Homo sapiens: one gene and its partners. The protein of the gene in region 1 purifies or fractionates together with the protein of each later gene. This does not show direct contact. Each region holds a gene or a part of one and is shown in the gene's direction. Other genes may lie near its edges.

What was found.
Region 2: the proteins of CCDC127 (region 1) and ATF2 purify together in Homo sapiens (co-immunoprecipitation; one large-scale study listed by IntAct). This does not show direct contact.
Region 3: the proteins of CCDC127 (region 1) and TGFBRAP1 purify together in Homo sapiens (co-immunoprecipitation; one large-scale study listed by IntAct). This does not show direct contact.
Region 4: the proteins of CCDC127 (region 1) and CETN3 purify together in Homo sapiens (co-immunoprecipitation; 2 studies listed by BioGRID and IntAct, with this or other methods). This does not show direct contact.

What each region holds. Positions count from the first base shown.
Region 1 is NC_000005.10:196,366-198,832, reverse strand, and holds the end of CCDC127 (coiled-coil domain-containing protein 127), read left to right. Parts: 3' UTR 1-1,965; downstream 1,966-2,467.
Region 2 is NC_000002.12:175,161,684-175,165,257, reverse strand, and holds part of ATF2 (cyclic AMP-dependent transcription factor ATF-2), read left to right. Parts: intron 1-3,574. UniProt on the Homo sapiens protein: Transcriptional activator which regulates the transcription of various genes, including those involved in anti-apoptosis, cell growth, and DNA damage response.
Region 3 is NC_000002.12:105,270,685-105,274,258, reverse strand, and holds part of TGFBRAP1 (transforming growth factor-beta receptor-associated protein 1), read left to right. Parts: intron 1-568; coding exon 569-715; intron 716-1,244; coding exon 1,245-1,404; intron 1,405-3,574. UniProt on the Homo sapiens protein: Plays a role in the TGF-beta/activin signaling pathway. It associates with inactive heteromeric TGF-beta and activin receptor complexes, mainly through the type II receptor, and is released upon activation of signaling.
Region 4 is NC_000005.10:90,392,705-90,396,278, reverse strand, and holds part of CETN3 (centrin-3), read left to right. Parts: intron 1-2,171; coding exon 2,172-2,215; 3' UTR 2,216-3,574. UniProt on the Homo sapiens protein: Plays a fundamental role in microtubule-organizing center structure and function. As a component of the TREX-2 complex, involved in the export of mRNAs to the cytoplasm through the nuclear pores.

The sequences.
Region 1 (2,467 bases):
AAAACCCAGCAGGCGTGCTCCTGGGCCCTGCAGACGCCGGATGTGTGGCCACAGACGCCATGCGACCCAGGACTGGAGTCACAAGATTGGGCGAGGACAAAGACCCAGCGAATGGTGAACGGCCATGCAGGATGGGGCCGATCAGTTCAGTAGGAGCAAGTGCGAGACCTGCACAGGACGGGCGAGGGAGGCGTTGGTCCCCAGCCTCTGCTGGCCTTATCAGAATGGGCTGTTCTTGGGAAGCCCCTGGGTGTCTGTGGAGCTGGAGATGTTGGGAGCTTGTGCCCTCAGCACCGCCCACTGACACCAGTGGGCTCCTGTGTGCCCTGCCCAATCCCAGGCCTCAGGACACCCAGCACCCTGGGCCCTTCTCCACTGCCACAGGCCTTAAGGTTGGTCATCATGCCGCCCAGCGGCTGAGTCTTACAATAAAAATTCAGACACAAAGCAGTGGCAGCCACTCTGTGCTTTAGAGTTAGAAGTAAGTCATTAAAAATGTTGGCCCAGCACCTTCCCTGCCTGTTTCCAAAAGCTGGCCGCAATATCAAATTCATGTCCCTGGACAAGGCTCCAGTAAGGCACTGCCTGCAGTGTGCAGAGAGCACTTAGGTGGTTGCAGAGCAGGCAGAGACGAATGTGGGGAGTGGAAGTCACCATATCTGCCCACTCGGCAGGAGGCCGTCCATTCCTGAGACGCCCCCGGGAGGCAGGCTCCTGTACGGCACTCATGCTGGGTACCCAACCCCTACAACCCAGGCAAACCCCTACCCTGGGCAGAGAAGGGCCTGGACACACCAGGGGCAGAAGGAGAAAGGGGATGGAGACAAACCTGGGTGGGGGTGACCTGGGGGCAGCTGGGGTGGGGTGACACGGGGACCATTGGGGTGGGGACACACTCCGGGAGGGGGAGACACGGGGCAGCAGGGGTGGGGGCACACCTGGAGTGGGGTGACATGGGGGCCCCTGGGGTGGGGACACACTCGGGGAGGGGGTGACACAGGGACCACTGGGGTGGGGACACACTCCGGGAGGGGGTGATACGGGGCAGCGGTGTAGGGAAAAGAGAGATCAGACTGTCACTGTGTCTATGTAGAAAGGGAAGACATGAGACTCCGTTTTGAAAAAGACCTGTACTTTAAATAATTGCTTTGCTGAGATGATGTTAATGTGTAGCTTTGCCCCAGCCACTTTGCCCCAACCTGGAGCTCACAAAAACATGTGTTGTATGAAATCAAGGTTTAAGGGATCTAGGGCTGTGCAGGACGTGCCTTGTTAACAAAATGTTTACAAGCAGTATGCTTGGTAAAAGTCATCGCTATTCTCTAGTCTCAATAAACCAGAGGCACAATGCACTGCGGAAAGCCGCAGGGACCTCTGCCCTTGAAAGCCGGGTATTGTCCACGGTTTCTCCCCATGTGATAGTCTGAAATATGGCCTCGTGGAATGAGAAAGACCTGACCGTCCCCCAGCCCGACACCCGTAAAGGGTCTGTGCTGACATGGGTTAGTAAAAGACGAAAGCCTCTTGCAGTTGAGAGAGAGAAGTCCACTGTCTCCTGCTCGCCGCTGGGAACTGAATGTCGCGGTGTAAAACCCGATTGTACATTTGTTCAACTCTGAGACAGGAGAAAAGCCGCCTTGTGGCGGGAGGCGAGACATGTTTGCGGCAATGCTGCCTTGTTATTCTTTACTCTGCTGAGATGTTTGGGTGGAGAGAAACATAAATCTGGCCTACGTGCACGTCCAGGCATAGTACCTTCCCTTGAACTTAATTACGACATAGATTCTTTTGCTCACACGTTTTTGCTGACCTCCTCCTTATTATCACCCTGCTCTCCTACTACATTCCTTTTTGCTGAAATAATGAAAATAATAATAAAAACTGAGGGAACTCAGAGGCCGGTGCCAGTGCAGGTCCTTGGTATGCTGAGCGCCGGTCCCCTGGGCCCACTGTTGTTTCTCTATACTTTGTGTCTTACTTCTTTTCTCAGTCTCTCGTCCCACCCAACTAGAAATACCCACAGGTGTGGAGGGGCAGGCCACCCCTTCACAGCGGGGGTGGGGACACACCTGGAGTGGGGTGACATGGGGGCCCCTGGGGTGGGGACACACCTGGAGTGGGGTGACATGGGGGCCCCTGGGGTGGGGACACACTCGGGGGGGGGTGACACAGGGGCCATTGGGGTGAGGACACACTCCGGGAGGGGGTGACACAGGGCAGCAGGGGTGGGGGCACACCTGGGGAGGGGGTGACACGGGGCCCCCTGGGGTGGGGACACACTCGGGGTGACATGGGGGCCCCCGGGTTGGGGACACACTCGGGGAGGGGGTGACACCTGAGGAGGGGATGACATGGGGCCCCTGGGGTGGGGACACACCCGTGGTGGGCGCTGTCATGAGGTGTGACTTTTGAGCGGAGCCATGGACACACAGTGACTCAGATCCCTGGTTTTGGGTCTGAGAACGAC
Region 2 (3,574 bases), on another chromosome or scaffold:
CATCAGAACCTCTCGTTAAAAATTCAGTGAATAGCAATAATTAATATTCAACTGATTTTTATAAAAGTCAATGCATATAGCACCTGTTGGGTTATTTTGTATAATTAAAATGTACCCTAAAAAAAATCCCACCTTAGCCAGGTGTGGTAGCTCACGCCTGTAATCCCAGCACTTTGGGAGGCTGAGGCAGGCGGATCAGCTGAGGTCAGGAGTTCAAGACCAGCCTGGCCAACATGGTGAAACCACGTTGGTAGGCGCCTGCAATCCCAGCTACTGGGGAGGCTGAGGCAGGAGAATCGCTAGCACCTAGGAGCAGGAGGCTGCAGTGAGAGCCGATCGTGCCACTGCACTCTAGCCTGGGCAACAGAATGAGACTGCATCTCAAAACAAAACAAAAACCAAAAAATTCACTTAGTATTGTTATAATCTGGAGTTTAATTTAGTATTTCTGTGTTTATCTCATACTCACACCTGTTCCTCAAGGCTAAGAACTTGTCTAAAATGCTGCATGTTCTCTTTATGTAAGTTTTAATGTTGAAGTAGTAGGATAGTATTCACCTATTTCTATTTGAAGGAAAACCCCAGAGAACATTTTATTTCCTTTGTTATGTTTCTCAAGGTTAAAAGGTTATATAGTAAGGTATAAGATAGTTTCATAGAAAATCAAGGAAATTTGTGGATCTTTAAGGCCATCAGTAATTGTATTTTATCTTATTTTATTTTTGAGACAGAGTCTCCCTCTGGCTTCCACGCTGGAGTGCAGTGGTGCAGTCTTGGCTCACTGCAATCTCCACCTCCCGGATTCAAGCGGTTCTCCTGTCTGAGCCTCCCGAATAACTAGGATTACAGGGGTGCACCACCATTCCCTGCTGATTTTTGTATTTTTAGTAGAGATGGGGTTTCACCATGTTGGCCAGGCTGATCTCGACTTCCTGGCCTCGAGTGATCCACTCGCCTTGGCCTCTCAAAGTGTTGGGATTACAGGCGTGAGCCACTACACTAGGCCTATTTTTACACATTATTTTATAATATAAATATATTTAATGTTACATATTATATAAATATAAATAAATATGTATTCATTATATGTGTCTTTTCAATTTGTTGAGACTTTTTGACAACCTTGAAACTGGTGTATTCATTTTCACTTTTAAGGCATTACAGGCATGAGCCACTGCACCCGGGCCTATTTTTACACATTGTGTTACAGGTGTATTTAATGTTACATATTATATAATTATAAATAAATATGTATTCATTATATATATCTTTTCAATTTATTCTTGTTGGCAACCTTGAAACTAGTGTATTCATTTTCACTTTTCTTTTTTTTTTTTTTGAGACGGAGTTGCTATGTCACCCAGGCTGGAGTGCAGTGCCGCTCTCAGCTCATTGTAACCTCTGCCTCCCAGGTTCAAGTGATTCTCCTGCCTCAGCCTCCTGAGTAGCTGGGATTACAGGTGCCCGCCACCACACCTGGCTAATTTTTGTATTTTTAATAGAAACGGGGTTTCACCATGTTGGCCAGGCTGGTCTCGAACCTGCCTCGGCCTCCCAAAGTGTTGGAATTACAGGCATGAGCCACCACCCAGCATCATTTTTCATTTTTTAAGTATGTTTATTGATTTTTTTTCCTTGGCATTTTGACATTGACAGTAAAGAAGAGATGTAAACAATGTTTTGGGGGCTTTGCCTATTCACCCATATTTGCATTCTGTATCTTAACAAAGATAGTGGTTCTCAGCCACTTTTTTGCCTTTCTACCCAAGGAATACAAAATACTTCCAACAGTAGTAGTGGCTTATTACCACAGAGATTCTCAACAAGACTGGTAGGGAAAGACAGGGAGAAATAATTGTAATTGGCAAAATACCATATGGACTTTGGTTATTTTTGTAATATATAGTATTTTTATCTATAATATTGACCATAAGTTTATAAATATATTCCCTAAATATTCTTTAGTTTGCTAGCAGAACCGAAACCTTTGTCATTCTAATTTTTTTAGCTTTGCTCCAATGTTATAGCTTTGGTTTTTCTAATTTTACTGTTCGGGCTAGTATGTTTGCTTGCATTTATTTATTTATTTATTTATTTATTTATTTATTTATTTATTTATTTTTTGAGACAGAGTCTCGCTCTGTTGCCCAGGCTGGAGTGCAGTGGCACGATCTTGGCTCACTGCAAGCTCCGCCTCCCAGGTTCATGCCATTCTCCTGCCTCAGCCTCCCAAGTAGCTGGGACTACAGGCACCCACCACCACGCCCGGCAAATTTTTTAATATTTTTAGTAGAGACGGGGTTTCACCGTGTTAGCTAGGATGGTCTCGATCTTCTGACCTTGTGATCCGCCCACCTCGGCCTCCCAAAGTGCTGGGATTACAGGCATGAGCCACTGCACCCAGCCTGCTTTTATTTATTAAACGTGTCGGAACAATTTTTTTATATATCAACTTGTTTTGCCATACTAACAAATAATTGTGTTCATTATTTTTGTTTTCTTCTAGTTTGTGCATATATATTGCAGTTTTTACAGAATTATATCAAATAAGTTTTATTTTACTTTTATAGCATTGTATTTTTCCATGTTGTATAACCTTTATGATATTTGATTGTTACTTGATAGTTGAAAAATAAGTATTAAATTTGTTCTAAATGCCTGACAGGAAAATAATAGTTTTCAGTTTATGCCTATTTTGACATTGAATTGAACATCTCTGTGCATTTTTTCTTTTATGAATTGTTTCTATAGGATACTAATCTCAAATGAATTACTAGTCAAAGGATATAAATGTTTCTACAGTTGCCAGATTTTTGCCTCCCCAAAGACTTGAGCGAGTTTACACTGTCAGCAGAGCATGAATGCGTTAGCTTTGCCATACTTTTGTGAACTTGGGAGTTATGATTAATGAAGCGTGATTACCTAATTGGGAATTATTTCTGGGAATAAGTTGTATTATTTAGCAGTTTTAAAATTATTTAGTTGGCCATATCATACTATAGTTATTTATCTACCAGTGATCTATGTGATGTGACAAATATTGTGTATTTCATATTTTCTGACATTTTACTGTCTTTGTTTCTTTTAAAGTTTACCAAAACTTTTGACAGACTGGTAACAATAATTCTTAGATTTCATGCAGTTTTATGTGGTTTGTACACTGAGTATTTTAATGCTAGTTTAAGAGTTAATTTCTGGGCTGGGCATGGTGGCTCATGCCTGTAATCCCACCATTTTGGGAGGCCTAGGCAGGTGGATCACCTGAGGTCAGGAGTTCGAGACCAGCCTGGCCAATGTGAGAAAACACCATCTCTACTAAAAATACAAAAATTAGCTGGGCATGATGGCGGGTGCCTGTAATCTCAGCTACTCGGGAGACTGAGGCAGGAGAATTGCTCGAACCTGGGAGGCAGAGGTTGCAGTGAGCCAAGATCACGCCAGTGCACTCTATCCTGGGCAACAGAGCGAGACGGTGTCTCAAAAAAAAAAAAAAAGAGTTACTTTCTGAACTATACATTTCATAGTTCTGTCTTATGAATGTGTCATTATGATTTATTAAGATTTATAATGACAA
Region 3 (3,574 bases), on another chromosome or scaffold:
CAGTGCCTCCACTTGATGGACACAGGAAGGCAGCCCGGAAACTTACTCAGGGACTGGAAGCTCAGATCTCAGATTAACCATCTATCATAAATAACCCAGAGTAGATAATCCATGTTCAGAGAAGTGAGTTTACTGTACAGAAATTTCAGCACTTTTGATATCTTTTCACATACTGTTCTGCAACTGGCTATCCCTGTTCTTGGATGATCTTAATGTTATTATTATAGGTTGTCAAAATCTGTCACCAGTAAATGCTTTGTTCTTCAGTTTCCAATTTGCATGGGGTGTGTGAGGAGGACTTCAGGGTATAGGCTGGCTTTTCTATCTTGATTTTTTGCCCTCTGGCCTTTGACAGTGCTTCATGCTGGGCTGTTTTTCTCCATAATTATATTTTTTAAGCCACTGTATTGAGATATGATTGACATACAAAAAGCTGTGCATACATAATAATTTAATCATATTTTAAGTGATGATTTTATCCAAAGCTTGAATGTGCAATGACCAAAATAAAGTTAAAGGAAAGGTGGGTTTGGGAAGCACAGTCACTGTATTGTCGCTCCTCTTTCAGGTCGGAGTTCAGGTTTTCACCAAGAGACCTTTGGATGAACAGCAGAAGAACAGTTTTAATCCAGACGACATTATCAATTGCCTTAAAAAATACCCTAAAGCCCTTGTGAAGTATCTGGAACATCTTGTGATAGACAAGAGACTGCAGGTGAGCACTGCAGAAGTTAGACTAAAGAGTGTGGGCTGGAGAGACGGAATTGAACTAGAACACTTTTTGGCATGTGATTCTGTGTAATGTCTGTTCCCTGGGTGATCCATCCGTACTTGTTGATGGTCTGATGGCGGCCTTGAGGCTTGCGGAAAGAGACCTGGAGCAATAGGTAGCTTTATTTTTTTCTCCGTCCGTCTCACACCCACTCAGCTTTTATTTTTCCTCTCTTTTCCTTCTTTGTTATTATCCTTAAAGGAAATAAAGGGAGCTATACCTTTTTGTAGGTTATCTAAATTCTGTGGCCCTTACTTCTTGAAATAAGAGGTGACATTTTGTTCTATTCCCCATAGATGGTAAACTCATCTCAGTATCATGGTTTCTGAGAGGGTTTCGATCCAGCAAGTGAGCATCTGCCCAGCTCATGTCAGTGCAGCCGCGGTCTCCAAGCCCTGGCTGACAGGGGAGAGCTTTGACTTTCCCACTTGAAAACACTGTCTGTCTGCTTGGCTCCCCCTGTTTCCTGCAGAAAGAAGAGTATCACACCCACTTAGCTGTGCTGTACCTGGAAGAGGTGCTGCTGCAGAGGGCCTCCGCCAGTGGCAAGGGTGCAGAGGCCACCGAGACGCAGGCCAAGCTGCGGCGGCTGCTCCAGAAATCTGATTTATACCGAGTCCACTTTCTTCTCGGTGAGGATGATCTCAGTATTGTCTCCCTTTGGAAAAAACTCATATCAAGCGGGTGGGAGGAAGCAGAGAGAAGGGCTTTGGCACAGCTGCTGGTTGATTGCACAGGGTGATTCTTTGAGCCTCTTTTTTTAAAAAGATTTTTTTAAATGAAGACAGGGTGTCGCTTTGTCACCCAGGCTGGTCTCAAACTCATGGCCTCAAGTGATCTTCCTGCTTCTGCCTCCTAAGGTGCTGGGATTATAGGCGTGAGCCACCACACTCAGCCCTTGAGCCTCTTTTGACAGAGTCAGCCTCCTTGCAGGGAGAAATAAGGCTTCTCGTGCCTCTAGAGATGGACCGTGCCTCTAGATGGACGGTGCCCTTTGATTGATGATGTTGGTGCTGCCCTGGTAGACTTTAGACGTCTGTGTGTCTCTTGACACACAGTGTCTTTATTCAATGTCAAAGCACTGAGTCATAGTTCCCTCTGACGGCTTCAGTCTCTGATCAAGGCTTTGCAGTAGGCACTGCCCCCAGCGACCCATTCCCGAGCTGCTCAAGGCTCAGGTCCCTCGAGCTCTAAGCAAGAAGGTTATGCAGGTGTCTTGGAGGGCATTTGGGTTTCTGTTCCTCAGGGGTACAGAGGCCACAGTTTCTGTATTGTGTAAAGTTCCACAGCGCAGCATGGTGCTTGCAACTGGTAGAATTAACTAGTTTCTTGCCACATTAAGAATTTCTGCATTTATACTCACTGGGGTTAGTGATGTGTTTTTCTTTAATGGCCTTTAATACCATTTTTTGACCAATAACAAAGCATATCTAACACACGTGTTGTCTCCATAAAGCACATCACAACCTTCCAGAGCTTAGGAGCGCTAGGCAGCACTTCAGCACTACACTGAAATCACCAACAAGAAGCACCAAAATGCAAAAAAGCATGGCAATAAATAGCCCGTGAAAAGGAAACGTGTAGCTAGTACGACAGCTGAAGCAAGGAAGGAGGGCGCTCCTTCTTTGGCCTCAGCTCTGCATCAGGCTCTGTGCTTGTCGTAAATGACCTTGAAGCTGCTGCGAGTGTTGATTGGGAGGTTACAAATAAATTTCAGCGAGTAGATGACTTTGTAAATACAGAATCCACAAATAATGAGGATTGACTAGATATGCCCAGCATAGGTTGAAACGCTGAGGCTGCCTTATGACACAGTTTCCACAACAACCCTGTGAAGTGAGGCCTGTTTTTCCTCCATTTTTACAGAAGAGTGCACTGAAGCCCAGAGAGGTTACCCCGCTTGCCACAGGTCACACAGCCCACGAGCAGTAGAGCCAGAACACAGGTGTGGGTTGGTATTTCATGAAACCAGCAAACACTAGTTCTGGCTTGTACCTGCACCTACATTAGGACTTTCTGTGGCGATCCGCTGTGCAATCTCTGTTCACTCACAGCCACCGTCCCTGACTGATCAGTGCCAGGGTGTCCCAGCTATTGAATTTTTACTCACTCCTGACTTATTCTTTTTGCTTTACAAATCTCCTTATAAAACTCTCAGGCCAGCCACAAGTGTGTGGTTCAATGTTTGCATTCCGCCAGCTTTTCTGAGTATGTAGAGTGTGTCACTGTGCATTGAGGATACAAAGATGGATGAGACTTGGTCCTGGTCCTCAGAGACTCAGAGTTTAATTGGAATGCAGTTAAGGGCAGGTACAGTTCTAGAAGGGCCGAGGAACCCACGAGCTGTGCCTTGGGGTGGAGGGGTCAGAGGCAGCCTCCCGGAAGAGGCCCTATATGAGCAGTCATTAGGTATAAGCCTGGGCTTGCAGGTAGCACAGGGGAGCTTTCAGGCAATGGGGGTATCCCCCGCAGCACTGTGGGAGGAGCACTGGAAATCCAAACACTGATTTTGTATCCCTTCTTAGTTAGATGACTTGGGGAAATGTCAGTCTAGGGAAGTTGTAAAAACGATTCCAGCCCAACCTATCCACTCGGGGTGGCTGTGGGAGTCAAATATAAATGAGATGATAGATGTGGAAGTGTAAATCACCACAGTGATCTTTTCTTAACTGTCTTTGTACCTCACCCAGGGTCTTAACTATGGCAGCCACTTAGTAATTATTTGTTGGCCTTCCACTGTGAGGATGAAGGCGTTGCGTATTGTGGCTTCTGTGTCTAGTGCTATAAGGGATGTACCTTGCA
Region 4 (3,574 bases), about 90 Mb from region 1:
GATGTTAAATACTGATTGCATGGCTTCATAGTTCCCTGTCAGCTTCTGGAGGGTGCATTTTTCCTAACTCATAGCTTATTTCTGTGAGGCATACACTATTCTTTCTTTGACTGTATTTCTGATGGTATTCTCCCACCCCAGCTCTCTTTCTACTTCCTTTCCAAATTCTGTATTTTTATTTTAGAGCCCAAGTAATGATTTACCTTTACCTAAATTTTTCTTATTAGTAATAATTTTTACCATTGTGAAGGATTTTTTTTCAACACTGATTTGGTCTTTGTTTTAATAATAAATAGTATTTTGTGTTATAAAACATTTGTTCTGTTTCAAGTATAAAAACTGACTAACATAGTTATCAAAACCGGTTTTCTATGTGGTTTCTAGAACCAGTGCAGTATATATTCTTTTCATTCCCTATGACCATGTTTTATCTCCTCAACATTTTTTAATTGGTTAATTTTTTCTAACTGTTCATTATGAATATTCTCAAACAGAAAAATTGTCAGACTAGTACAATGAACACCATTGTACCTTCTGCCTAGATTTAGTAATTAGTATTTTACCGCATTTGCTTTACCTGTCGTGTGTATATTTTTTTCTCAATCATTTGAAAATAAATTTCATATATCAAGAACTCAGTCTTTAGGCCAGGCACCATGGCCCATGCCTGTAATCCCAGCACTTTGGGAGGCTGAGGCAGGTGGATTGCTTGAGCCCAGGAGTTCAAGACCAGCCTTGGCAACATGGTGAAACCTAATCTCTACCAAAAATACAACGATTAGCCAGTCTCATAACCCGGTCTCTAAATTAATTAATTAATTAATTAAATTTTAATAATAAAACAAAAACTTGATCCTTTAATATTTTAGCATATCCATCTACTAAGAACAAGGATATATCTTTCATAAAGCTATGATACCAATGTTACACTTAAGAAAGTTAACAATAATTTTATAATATCATATAATATCTTTCTCATTTCGGTTTTAATGTATTCCAGAATAGGAAGCCTGGTGTCTGTTTTGATATATTACGCAACACTTATTGTGGTGTTGGCATTCACTAGCCACTTAAAAATGTTTGATTCAATGGAGTATTTTCATATAATACCTTCTATGGTAAATAAGAGTTAAACAATCTAAAACATCATCTCATAGTTCAGTGTTTTCAGATGAAGGAAATGAGATGCAGAGCTGTTCTGTGCAGAGCTGTGACTAGAGACCAGGTCTTAAGTCTCAGTGTAGTTTTCTTTTGGCATTATCAAAATTATCATTCATAATTTATGCATTGTTTAGGTATGTATTAAGTCTTAGGGCTAAATGCTAAATACTTACCAGAAGTATCTTCTGAACATTTTTCTTAATTGATACGTGCGCATATGTCGGGTTTTCAAAATTATATTCTATAAGATTATCTGATTTCTTATTTCTAGGTTGCTGTCTTAAACATTATGTTTTATAAATTGGAGATTCTTACTATATTTATAATTTTGGCAAACTAAAAATTAGTCCTTATCCATGATTATTTTCTGCCTTTACATCTATATAGTTACTGGATTACTTTGGTGATTAAGATTACATCTGTAATCTTTTCAAATTGCCATTTTTATTGATACCTTTGAGGTATGGTGACCTGGTTTTAATTATTCTTTAACATAGGCTTTTAAGTATATAAAAGTTCAAAAAATAATAATTTAACTTCTTTTTATAATTTTATTATATTTTCATTCTTTAGAAATCTAATTTACATGCATGATATGTTCAAGCTTACTTGTAAAGGAAGGATTTGCTAAATGAACTAGTAGAATAAAGATTATAAAGAGGGTTGTTTAAAGAACCTTGAAATGTCAAGCATTTAAAATGTTTTAGCAAGTATGTACAAATATGACTGTGATTGACTTTTTTGGTAACATTATCTTTTCCCCAGTTAATATTATAGAATACTAATTTGTAATGTTTATCACATTATATGTATTTTTGCATCCAAGAAGTTACATTTAATAAACATGTTCCACTTCCTAACAAAGAAGTAAAAGCAAAAAGCCATGTCTTAATGTAATAATTTTGCATAATGTAAAATTTTTTAAATACTTAGTGTAAAATGGTAGTCGTGGATTCTGAAAAAATAAAATGTTTATATTTCTGACTATTTCATTTTCTTTCTTACCACAGTAAACCAAGAGGAGTTCATTGCTATTATGACTGGTGACATTTAAAGAATTACAAGGATAAACACTAAGAATGTTGCAGTTACCATCTTATATTCTATTTTTGTGCCTGGAGCCATGTGAAAAAAACCAACTTAGTTCTTTTATCCTAAAGGACCAAAAATAAGCATCTTATATATCTGTATTTTACTACTGTTAAGTTTCTTTGTATGAACTGTGTTGTTAGTACTCAGATAGTTTAGCTTTGTATTTATAATAGAGCTTTTATATAAAGTTTTAAAAATTGAATGTGTGATATGTGTTCTTTGAAGGTTTTTTAATTTAACATTTATAGTCACTTTTTAGTGCACACATTTTCCAGACTTTCGTTAATAAAATATTTATTTTATTAGAATTTTAAAGTTTGGTAAATTTGTTTTTATTCCTAGTATCTGTTAACCCTCAAGAGTGGATTTCTTAAATCTTCCCTTTATAATTTTACTAGTTTCTGAAACAAAAATTGAAATACAATTAGCAATAGAGTGGCACATTTTTCCATTACCTAACATTTCATCAATTTTGACATTCTATATTTTAATACAAGCTGACTCAATATAAGCCTAATTCCTTTTTTAAGAGTCCTGTCTTTGAGTTTAGAAGGAATAAGTATTGTGCAGATAGACCCATTTATCCTTGTGTATTATGTTTCTTAACTTGGTATCATTGTAAGTATGAAAGTTAATTTTCTTCTGAATATTTCCTTAAACAAATTGAATGAATACAATTTGAATTTTCTAACTTCTTGACTGAGAGATTTAAATTTTGGAATTTTGATTTGTTAAGGTAATTATCACTCAATTACATGTCACAGTGATGAAAATAGAAAACTGTAAGCCACAGAAATAATTTAAGTCTATGTTTTACCTATATGAAGGAACAGTCTGTGATTCACCAGGAAATAGTAGAGACACAGTTTCCAAGTACTGGTGGGCTCTTCTGCCTTGTAGAAGTGTATGTTAGGGGGAAACAAGTGGTTATGGAGATCGATCATAGAAAAAAATAGTACCTATATGGATCCTTCACTCATATCTAGTACTCGGTGTTATGGGCTCTCCCAGGAACGGAATTGAGTTGTCTATTTCAGCAATCTTTCTTTAGAATTCTTGTTTTAAATTTTTAAGTTTAAAGTGTAGTATCATTTGAGGCGCTTTAAATGTTGTGAGCCTTTTAAGAGTATTACATTAAGGGTTGTCCACTAGAAATTTAACACAAAATCAGTAGGGAATACTATAGCAGTAGTGACATTTCAAACAGTTATCTAGGAAGCAAGTGTATATTAAGTCATTCTTGTATTGCTACGAAGAAATACCCAAGACTGCATATTTTATAAAGAAAAGAAGCTTAATTGGCTTACGGTTCTGCAGGCTT